Linked DNA regions of Homo sapiens: regions 1, 2 and 3 are each linked to region 4. Evidence: fine-mapped expression QTL. A gene starts in region 4. Each other region holds a variant in brackets. All regions are shown on one strand. Distances are between the middles of the regions. Region 1 has its middle 88 kb from the start of LMNB1. Region 2 has its middle 75 kb from the start of C5orf63. Region 3 overlaps MARCHF3 (membrane associated ring-CH-type finger 3). Region 4 holds the start of C5orf63 (chromosome 5 open reading frame 63).

Region 1 (2,690 bases), 210 kb after region 4:
CTGGCTCCATAATGCCCCAGCTGCAGATTGCAGAAAAGTGACCCCATCTACCTAAGCCTCAGTTTTTGCTCCTGTAAAATGGAGACAGTATCTACCTCATATAGTTCTTGTAAGATTCACAAGGCTTAGCTCCCGCTTCACAGATGAACAGTGGTGCCACTCCCTTTCTATCCTTTCACTCACTGTTGCTACCATCTAGGTTATTTTGCCCTAGCCAGGGTTTCAAAGAACAATTTTAATAATCAATTTGAAAGACCATAAACAAATTGTTTTAACTCTTATTCAAATGGAAGAGGGATTAATTTTAAATAATCAACAGATATTTATTGTGCACTGTGCTTGGGAATAAAAAGAACTATTAAGATAACTTTCTGGAGGTTGAAATTACTGATTTGATTGAGATCTTTGAATTATGGGTAGATTTTTATTTTCCCTGTATTTCCTGATACCAAGACCTAGGGTTAATTGAGAATTCATTACAGATAAAAATTTGCTAGTTCTGGGTCTAGTGCTACAGAGGAAAACGAATATAGCCCATCAGTTGTCTGTGTTCCCAGAAATGAGACATTCGTGAGTCACTGAGCTCATACATCCAATGCTTTCTTGAGGCTCTAAATTCTGTGCACAAAGACAACAGAAGGAGAGTTGGCTCAGGGAGCCCTGCTTCGTTATGAGACACTCTCTTTTTTGGAATACACTTTTCATCTATCAATCAGGGCCATAGTTTTCCCATCAAGGAAATGAATATATGAGTCTTTAGCAGAGGTTTTAGCTTATCTGTGAACATCATGTGCAAAGAATTAAGTTAATCTTACATTTTTGGTCATGACACTATTTCTGTGACCATTAGGTCCTTGTTTTTTATTCCACAAATATGTATATAGTGCCAGGCCCTTCTCATGAGCCATGCACTATCCAGCACTTTGATTTTTTTTTTTTAAGACAAAATCCTACTCTGTCGTACAGAGCTGGAGTGCAGTGGGGGAATTTCGGCTCGCTGCAACCTCCACCTCCGGGGTTCAGTCCGTGGCATCTGTTTCTAGGGCGTCTTGAAACGGCTATGGAGGCCCAAGTCTCCTTCCTTAGCCTCCCGAGTAGCTGGGATTACAGGCGCGCGACCACCATACCCAGCTAATTTATTTTATTTTATTATTTTTTTTTTTTTAGTAGAGGTGGGGTTTCACCATGTTGGGCAGGCTGGTCTCGAACTTCTGACCTCGTGATCCGCCCGCCTTGGCCTCCCAAAGTGCTGGGATTACAGGCGTGAGCCAATGAGCCCGGCCCTATCCAACACTTTAAAACTTACCTCCTGGCCAGGCGCGGTGGCTCACGCCTGCAATCCCAGCACTTTGGAAGCCTGAGGCAGGCAGATGGCTTGAGTCCGGCAGATGGCTTGAGCCCAGGAGTTCGAGACCAGCCTGGGCAACACGGTGAGAC[C/A]CCCAGCTCTCCACAAAATACAAAATATTAGACAGGTGTGTCGGTATGCACCTGTGGACCCAGCTACTCAACAGGCTGATGTGGGAGGATCACTTCAGCCCCGGAGGTCGAGGCTGCAGTAAGCCGAGATGGCGCCACTGCACTTCCTGCCTGGTGGACAGAGCGACACCCTGTGTCAAAAGAGAAAAAAATAAAATTACTTTATTTAATCCTCATAACCTTATCTAGTGCCACGTAACAGAACTTAGTGGTCCAAAACAACTACGTTATTGTATCTCATTATTCCACGGGTTGATCTGGCCACAGCTGGGCAGTACCTCTGCCAGGTGTCTTACACAGTCCGATGGCACAGTGCTGCTCCATGTGGCCCGCCTCTCCACGTGGCAGCTGTTTGTAGGACTCCGTGAAATGGCAGTGGCAGCGGCCCAAGGCTCCTGCTTAAACACGGGGCTAGGCAGTCCCAGGGCAGTGCTTACTCTGTATCCTATTGGTCAAAGCAGTCACAGGCCCGCCTCTTGTGGGAGGAGCTACACGCAGACAGGGCAGGACAGAATTTTTTGGAGCCCGTCTTCGCCTATCGTCCCCAGCCCATTTTAGGGATGAGGACACTTAACTAAAGAGGTTGTTAATTGCCCAAGGTAACAGAGCTAGTTAGAGGCACAGCTGGGATTCAGAACCATGCAATCAGAGCATGGACTCAGCCACTAGTTTTAAATATTTTCCCTTTCACTTCTAATCTCCACTCCTATCTCCTTCCTTCCTCCATTAGGCACCCACTCTCTAATATGTTTGATATTATAAATTGAATATGTATGCTTCTTTGCAAAACATATTGTTTTGTAAGTATGTCTTAATTTACATCAACGATATTACAACTGTCCTTTTTCACTGAACACTGTTTCTAAGATGCCTCCATGTTGCTGCGTGTGCTACCTCATTGCTAATGGCTGTTTGGGATTCCATTTTACTTTTCCATTCCCTTAATGTTACCTCCAGCTCCCTGACCCAGCCAACAGTGCTGTGATGGACATCCTCGTGCTCATCCACATATGAGCCTGTCAGAAAGTTTCAGTGCATCAGTGTCCACCAGTGGGAGTGCTGGGTTATTGGACGAAGACATATTTAACTTCACTATTTTGGTCTTGTTCTCCAGGAGTATTTCACTTTAGACACCCCTCCCTGTAGTAATAGTTGAGTTTTCCCATTTCTCCATATTCTTTCCAACACAAGCTATTATTTATTTGTTCATTGTC
Region 2 (2,690 bases), 75 kb before region 4:
TACTCTGATTGTAACATGGAGAAAAGGGGAACAGGAAGACAGAGCCAGTTAGAAGGATGTTGCAGTTGTCCATGCTAGGGCATTCATGAATTTAACAAGGGACCTTGGTAGCCTGACTGTGTTAGTAGATTAGACATACAATTGTAAAGGCAAAGCACTAGACAAAATAATTTCCACAGGTCCCCCCCAGCTCCATGATTTTCAAATTCCATTTATGTTATACTCAATCAAAGACAGGAGTGATGAGGCATAAGCAGAGAAATTTTCAGATTTGTGATCAATATGCAGAACTCATGCTCCACAGACAGAGGCATTAAAGGCTATGCATGATGCTGATTGCCTGGATAATTCTCTGAGATCAAGCACACTTTACAATTAATGATAAACTTTTGTGGTTCAGGTGAGATCTGCTGTTTTTAAAAGTTTTGGTATTTGAAATTTCATGGCAAAACTCTGTCAAATTTAATGTTGAATATTCTAAATAGGGGCAGAAGTATTTTAACTTCACAAGAGTCACTTCTGTGTCTCCCACCCTAAATAAGATTGGATTTGATAGGAAAATCTAGGGCATTGCCATGACAATTACCGTGCTTAGTCTTAGTTCCACTTGGGCTTTATATAACTCCAATCAGACAAAAAGCAGAGGGCTGTGAGGAGCAGAGCGGGTGCTCACCTCTGCTTCTTGTTATTAGGGCATTCGGACTCCAACAGTAACCCAACATGACAGTAAGCCGCTGATTCTAAACCTTGGTTGTATGTTAGAATCACCTGAAGATCTTTAAAAAAAAAAAAAAAAATCACTGGTGCCTAGGCCCTATCCCTAGAATTTTGTATTTAATTGGTCTGGAATGAGAAGGCTTTAAAAGTTTCCCAGGTGATTTTAATGTGCAACCAGAGTTAAGAACCACCACTAGGTAATTATCACAGCAATTCTCAAGGTGCTGCCCAGAAAGAGCTGGAGGCTGGCAACATTTTCCAAGTGGCTGCCAGTCTGGATTCTTGCATGTTTGAATTATTTCACAGGTTGGGCAAAAATATGGATTTATCACACTAAAAACAAATCTGTTGTTGGGAGAAAATATTTGCAAACCATACAGCTGATATGGGGTTAATACCCAAAATATTTAAGGAATTCATAAAGCTCGATAGCAAAAAAAAAACTTAAATACTCGGTTTAAAAATGGTCAAAGGACCTAAACAGATAGTTTTCAAAAGAAGATATACAAATGAACAACAGGTATATTAAAAAAAAAAAATCCTCAACATCACTAATTATTCGGGAAATGCAGATCTAAACCACAATGAGATCTAATCTCACTCCAGTTAGAATGGCTATTACCAAAAAGACGAAAATAACAAATGTTGGCAAGAATGTAGATAAAAGGGAACCCTTGTACACCATTGGTGGGAATATAAATTGGTACCACCGTTATGGAAATGGTGTCTCCTCCAAATTTATTGAGTTTCCTCCAAAAATTAAAAATAAAACTACCATATGGATCCAGCAATCCAACTTCGGGTTATTGTATCCAAAAGCAATGAAATCATGATCTTGAAGGGATATGTGCACTTTCATGTTCACTGCAGCATCATTCACAATAGCCAAGA[C/T]GTGGAAACAATCTGAATGTCTATCAACAAGTGAATAAAGAAAATGTGGTGCAGGCCGGGCATGGTGGCTCACGCCTGTAATTCCAGCACTTCGGGAGGCCAATGCAGGCGAATCACGAGGTCAGGAGATCGAGACCATCCTGGCTAACACGATGAAACCCTGTGTCTACTAAAAATACAAAAAATTAGCGGAGTGTGGTGGCGGGCACCTATAGTCCCAGCTACACGGGAGGCTGAGGCAGGAGAATGCTGTGAACCCAGGAGGTGGAGCATGCAGTGAGCCAAGATCACACCACTGCACTCCAGCCTGGGCGACAGAGCAAGACTCTGACTCAAAAAAAAAAAAAAAAAGAAAGAAAGAAAGAAAGAAAAAGAAAACATGGTGCATATACACAATAGAATATTATTCAGCCATAAAAAAGAAAATTCTGCCATTTGTGACAACATAAATGAACCTAGAGAACATTATGCTAAGCAAAATAAACTAGACACAGAAAGATATATACAGCATAGACTCACTTATATGTGTGATATGGTTTGGATCTCTGTCCCTGCCCAAATTTTATGTCGAACTGTAATCCCCAGTGTTGGAGGTGTAGCCTGGTGGGAGGTGACTGGATCATGGGCGTAGATCCTTCAGGAATAGTTTAGCACCATCCCCTTGGTGCTGTTCTAGTAGTGAGTTCTTGTGAGATCTGGTTGTTTAAAAGTGTGTAGTACCTCCCCTCTCTCTCTCCTGTGCCTGCTCCTGCTTTGCCTTCTGCCATGAGTAAAAGCTTCCTGAGGCCTCCCCAAAAGCAGAAGCCGCTATGCTTCTTGTACAGCCTGCAGAACCGTGAGCCAATTAAACCTCTTTTCTTTATAAATTACCTAGTCTCAGGTATTTCTTTATAGCAGTGTGAGATCAGCCTAATACGATGTGGAATCTAAACTAGTTAAACTCATAGAAACAGAGAGTAGAATGGTAGTTGCCCAGGGAGATGTTGGTCAAAGGGTACAATCATTCCGCTATAAGCTGAATAAGTTCTGGGGATCTCATGTACAGCCTCATGACTACAGTTAGTAATACTCTGTTGTTCACT
Region 3 (2,690 bases), 47 kb after region 4:
TAATTGTTGAGAAATGTCCAGGTGGCATTTACTGGCCTTGTGAAATTTATAGGTAATGCATTAACTCTCTGTCTTCAACAATGGACCCCTTTTGTCTTACATCTGAAAGTGTTTTGGAATCCTCAGCTATCCCTATTCCAGGTTGGCCCTGATTCTAAGGAAGTCTGCCTGATGAAACAAGACCTGATGAATTTAAGACCCACCCCACAAACCCCAGTCTTAGTTCCTTCACCCCCCACTCTGAGTTCGGTGGGGTCCTGGGATGCTCTGGGGTGACTTTGCCAGTCCTAATTCACATGGTTGAGCATTTCCTCCTGCAAGGTAGAATCCTTATCTTCATGAGGCACCCTTTTTCTCTTTAAAAGCTGTTCTAGAACAAAGCCCAGCACCTCAGCTGGGCTACTACAGACTATATGAGGTCAATGATCGCCTTGGGAAGCTGTGACTATTTTGCTTGTGGCCAGGAAGAGTGTCCCAGGCCACCCACCCAGAGGCCCAGAGATTCTTACTTTCTGAAAGTCACCTTAGGAGTATTTTGAGCTGCCCAATTAATTGGGTAAATAGATTTTCTCATTGTCACAGAGATGTGGGTTGAGAATTGTTTGCTACCTCCCCTTTCACTGAGAGCACTGTGAATTTTTATTAGTTATTGCCAATTAGTTTTTTATTTATCATTTGATACTGACATTTGGATTCTGTTCTCCCATTTCAGACTGGCATAATTCTCCATTTAAGACTACTAAATAAGGTTTGAAAGAGAAAGGATCTATCAGAAGTTACCCTTCCCTCTTTCTACCATCCAAGTAGCTAAAAAAACAAATGACTTCTTTCAGAGGTGAGAAGTATCCTGATAACAAAAGGATGTGTATAGGCCAGGGTATTAAACTTGGATTGTTCCAGACCACTGGATCGTCACTGGAACTTTTACAGAGTAATTTCTGTTTAAAGAAGCACTTGGCAGGCATGTTGATAGGTCACTTACCTTAACAATCCTTTGAGGACAATGATTTTTTTCCACTTTGTTACAGATGAGCAAACTGCAGCTACAAAAGGATAATATTTAGATCTTGTCTTTCACATTCAAAGATGACACCAATAACTGAGAAGTTGGCCTTGCAACTTAAATTGTTTTGATTTAGGAT[T/C]GTGGTGATATGATAGGGTTATGCTTAGTCGTTCATATCATCTACAATTTTTTAACCTTTTTCTTCAAATTGTTTCTTATATTGAATGTGACCTTGTAGTAGTTTTCTTTATAAAGTTAACTACCATATATAATAATTAGTTCAATGACCCTGACCTTAACCAGACAGTCTTGACCCAGAGAGGCAAATAATTTGCTAAAAGTCCCAGATTACAAAAGCGGCAAAGCCTACGTATAGAATCCTTTAGACATGTGTTTTAGCCCTGTGCTGTTTTGTCTGTTGTCATGTTAAGCTGCTAATGTTTTCACTCTGGCAAAATAGGGTTGCTTTTATTTGCCTAGCTTCTGTGTGATTGGATAGACTTAGAAAAATGGAAAAGCCTAAAATATACTATCCACAGCCCCTGATCATACAATGGGACTGATTTCTGCCCAGTTACAAAAACTATAGTAGAATGCTGCTTTTCTTGAAACTGGGCCATAGGTCATTGCAAGCTTCTAAGCAACAATTCTATTATAACTTTTTTTTTTTTTTAGCTATGGCATTCTTCTGGCATCTAACTTTCCTTTGACAAGTTCTTTTCAAGTTTTTTATGCTTCTTTTCTTACCCTTATCCCCATAGCAAAATCTCCTTGTAAAAAATTCACTTTTTAAATCAGTCTGCCCTCTTAACATCTCCCAGTTCTTCCATTTTAGCCATTTTACCATTTCTCCTCCGAAATGCCCCCTTAAGTTCCCAACCTTCACTTTAGCTTTTTGGGTCTAGTAATATCCTCTAATATACGACAGTCATTGAGCTACAGAAGTTTCACAACAGCTTAAGCTTGTGGATTTAATGATAGCAGTAGTAAGAAGAAAGAAAAAGATGAAGGATAATACTGAAGTCATGTTGATATGTGTGTCATATTAGATATTCCCAGCTTACAGTGTCAGTGGGGAAATTTAAGATTCAGATGAATGAAGTGACAGATGCACTCATCTGTGGCCTCACAGACACTCTCCTGATACAAGCTGAAAAATATAACTGAAGACAGCATCCTGGGTTACAGAAGGAAAACAAATGTTAAGCTCTGAGAAAAGAACTGGGCAAAAAGTGAAGGGTCAGGGGTGGGGTGGGTAGGATGGTGGAAAAGAAATACCTCCAGTAAAATGCCAGACAGGGTGGTAAGAAATTTATAGAGGTGCAGACGGTTTGGGGTTTCTTGGGGGCATTGATTCTGTTTTATATTGTCCTCACAACCTGCTCACCCTGCTTGCTTTAAATAATTTATTATAGCAGCAGGCCTTCCCCTGGTTAGTTTCTTTCTTTTTTTTTTTTTTTTTAATAACTTTTTCCTTCTCATCTCTGGGTCTAATCAGAGGCATATATAATAGTGTGGCTGCCCTGGAGTACTTAGGAAAATCTGTGATCAATATCACTATATTATAAACCTATGGCTGTTTTGTTCTATTTTGCAATGTTTTCTTCCCTGTTATATTAACTCAGTATCTGTGTTTTAAACAATATTTTATTAATCTCTGCACAATGTTACTTCTTGGCTTATTCCT
Region 4 (2,690 bases):
ACATCACATAATCAGTGTGGTTTGTTTAAAGAATTCATTCCTGACCTTGGTTTGCTTTGTATCTTTTTTAAAACCACTGAGTACACATTGAATTTATAGTGGTAAGCTTAAGGCGTCAGACAGCATGAGATGGAATTCCAAATCTACCGTTTTGTAACTGTGAGAACTTGAGCAAGTTATTAAACCTCCATTACTTCATCTGTAAAATGGTACTAGTAATACTTAATTGCATTGTTCTCAGGATTAAACAGACTAATGAGTATAAAGCTTTTGGTGAGCAATCAATAAATGTTAGCTTTGAGTATTACTATAATTATTATCCATCATTTTCTCATTATTTACTGTACCACCATTCAAGCCACCACACCTAGAACCTGGAATGCTCAGTAGCTTCCTCACCTCCCTGCTTGTTCTACTCTTGCCTATCCTAAACCCTTCCCATCTACTTCCCAAAGCTAAGGGGTCCTTTCAGAAGGGAAAAGCAATCAGTTCAATCCCCTTCCCACATAAAACAGAAATGCCCCCCGGCTACCCTTAGCACAAACCTGAAAGGCCCTGCATGGCCAGACTCTCGCTTACCCTCTCTAGCCTGTTTCCACCTCTCTTCCCCATTCCCTCTAAGTCTCAGCCATACTCGTCAGTCTTCCGCATACAACCCATACTGCACATCCTCCACCAGACCCTTCCCCCAGCCTGCAGAGCTCTGTCCCCAACCCACGCCCTTCAGATCCCAGCCCCAAAGCTACCTCTTCAACGAGATCCCACTCAGGTCTTTTCTCATATTCCTTCCCTGCAAAGCACTTAGCTGAATAAACCCATGGCCTATTTAATAAGGGATAATTTCCTAATATCTGCTTTCTCACACGATTTTCAGTTTGCGGGAGGGTACGGCTGCCAGTTTTGCTCATCGCATTCCCCATAACCTAGTTCAGCCAAGACCTAGTGGAGGAGGCAGTAAATATTAAATTAACGAAAGAATGGATGCATGCAGAGCGGTTAAAATGGCTCGGACTCCGCAGCCTCAAAAAGTTGGCTCCCGCACCTGAGGCCTCTTATTAAATGGTTCCCAAACATGCGGGGTCACTTTTCCGTATTTTGTTTTTTAGTTTGGCCTTGGTTTGTGTGTCACTCTTCACGAGTAAAGGTTCAGGCGCGGCCACCCTTGAGAGCGTAGACGGGACACCACCTGAGATAGAACGCCCAGCGGCAGTGCTGCCGGCGTGGGGCGGAAGTGCGGGGCCTGGGGCCGGCGCCTGGTGGGTGCGGGCGGAAGTGCCCGGCGCAGGGCGGAAGCAGAGGCGTTGGCGGCGTGAGGCTCAGGTGGGTTCCCTTAGTCCCGCGCCGAGGGTGAGCGCTCGCGGGTCTCCGCCTCTGAGCTGACGCGCAGGCTGGCGGGGGTTCGCTGTGCCGCGTGCTGCCCATTTGGATAGTCGTTATACGGAATTTAATTAAACCGGGAGCCATAAATCCATGAACTACTTGGGGGAGATTATAAACGCGTGTGTGTGTGTCTGTGATAGCGCTCTGGGAAGTAAATAAATGACGGGCGGGAAAAGGAAGCTTTTTTTTTTTTTAAGAGAAAGCAGAAAACATCTCGAGAAAGCAGAAAACATCTCAACTTCATACTCCTCCAGTGATTCGCCGATGCCCCGTCCCGGGTTTAATTGAATTCTATGAAGTGGTAGTGTAATCACACTTGGGAGCCCGCTGAGCTGACTGCCTTTTTAAATAAATATTTTTGAGCAGCCATGTTGACCTTTAATTGGGGTGAAAAGGTTGAAAGGTGCAGCAGGGAACATTGTGAGTGCCGGGGCTCTCTGGATGAGCTGTCTGGATCTCCTCTCAGCCTTATTGGGCAAAAGCAGCCCTCTGGGTACTGAACAATGAGAGAATAAATCAGAAACTGTACATTCTCAACAGATATTCACTTCTGACAAATAGCAGCTCATACAGTTTTTTAATAAGTCCAAGGGTAGAAAAGTCCCCACTAAAATGTCATTGTGAGTTAGGCTTGTGACTGTTTCTAAGGCTGTCTTTCACAGGGAATGTTTTGCTTGGGTGATCTTTATTCTTGTTTATTAATAAATAGTGTATATGTGGTACTTTATATTTTAGTGCCCTTAAAAAAAAAATCCATAGTATGGCCTTAGCTTGACCCCAAGATTCTCAATTCCTCAAGGACAGAGATGGTGTCTAAGATCTGTTATATCCCAATACTTTCTAGCGCATTTCCCAGAATTAGTATACATTGTCTTGTTTAAGCAGCCACTAGAGCTATGCCTTGGTGCACAATGCTGAACAAGTTGAGGTGTCTATTAGAGGTCGCAGTCTTCTCATTTGGTCATATTCTGAGGACTAGCTTATAAAAATGCATGTGAAGCTCTCTACCAATATTTGGAGCTGTATACATTGGGGTGCATTATAGGTAATTAGAAAGATTTAAAACACGGGGAAAAAAGATACACCCTGGAAATATTGGATAATTATGATAATACTGGGGCAAAGCAGAACTAATCATGGTTCTGTGTGAAATATCGTAGCCCAATAACCTGCGTCCTGCTCTGCTGAGGAATTGCCTGGAACCAGAAAGACCCTGTTGTGAAAATTAAGATTGGTGGGGCTGGTGCTTTAAACAGGCAGGATCCTCAGATTGTCTTTCTTCCCTCCTGCTCTGGCAGCAGTAGCCACAT

Evidence for each region. PIP is the estimated chance that this variant, and not a neighbour inherited with it, causes the effect.
Region 1: its variant is fine-mapped to the expression of C5orf63 in whole blood (TOPMed, PIP above 0.99).
Region 2: its variant is fine-mapped to the expression of C5orf63 in lung (TOPMed, PIP 0.96).
Region 3: its variant is fine-mapped to the expression of C5orf63 in whole blood (INTERVAL, PIP 0.93).

What each region holds. Positions count from the first base shown.
Region 1 is chr5:126,863,393-126,866,082 of GRCh38, reverse strand. No RefSeq gene overlaps it. Among named protein-coding and RNA genes, the nearest start is that of LMNB1, 88 kb to the right of the region's middle. The variant C/A (reference allele first, on the strand shown) is at 1,438.
Region 2 is chr5:127,147,091-127,149,780 of GRCh38, reverse strand. No RefSeq gene overlaps it. Among named protein-coding and RNA genes, the nearest start is that of C5orf63, 75 kb to the right of the region's middle. The variant C/T (reference allele first, on the strand shown) is at 1,609.
Region 3 is chr5:127,025,084-127,027,773 of GRCh38, reverse strand. The region is part of intron 1 of MARCHF3 (membrane associated ring-CH-type finger 3); the gene reads left to right. Among named protein-coding and RNA genes, the nearest start is that of MARCHF3, 4.1 kb to the left of the region's middle. The variant T/C (reference allele first, on the strand shown) is at 1,143.
Region 4 is chr5:127,072,081-127,074,770 of GRCh38, reverse strand. C5orf63 (chromosome 5 open reading frame 63) reads left to right here and starts at 1,269. Exons shown (of 5, transcript NM_001164478.2): 1 at 1,269-1,320. RefSeq lists a silencer at 1,193-1,412.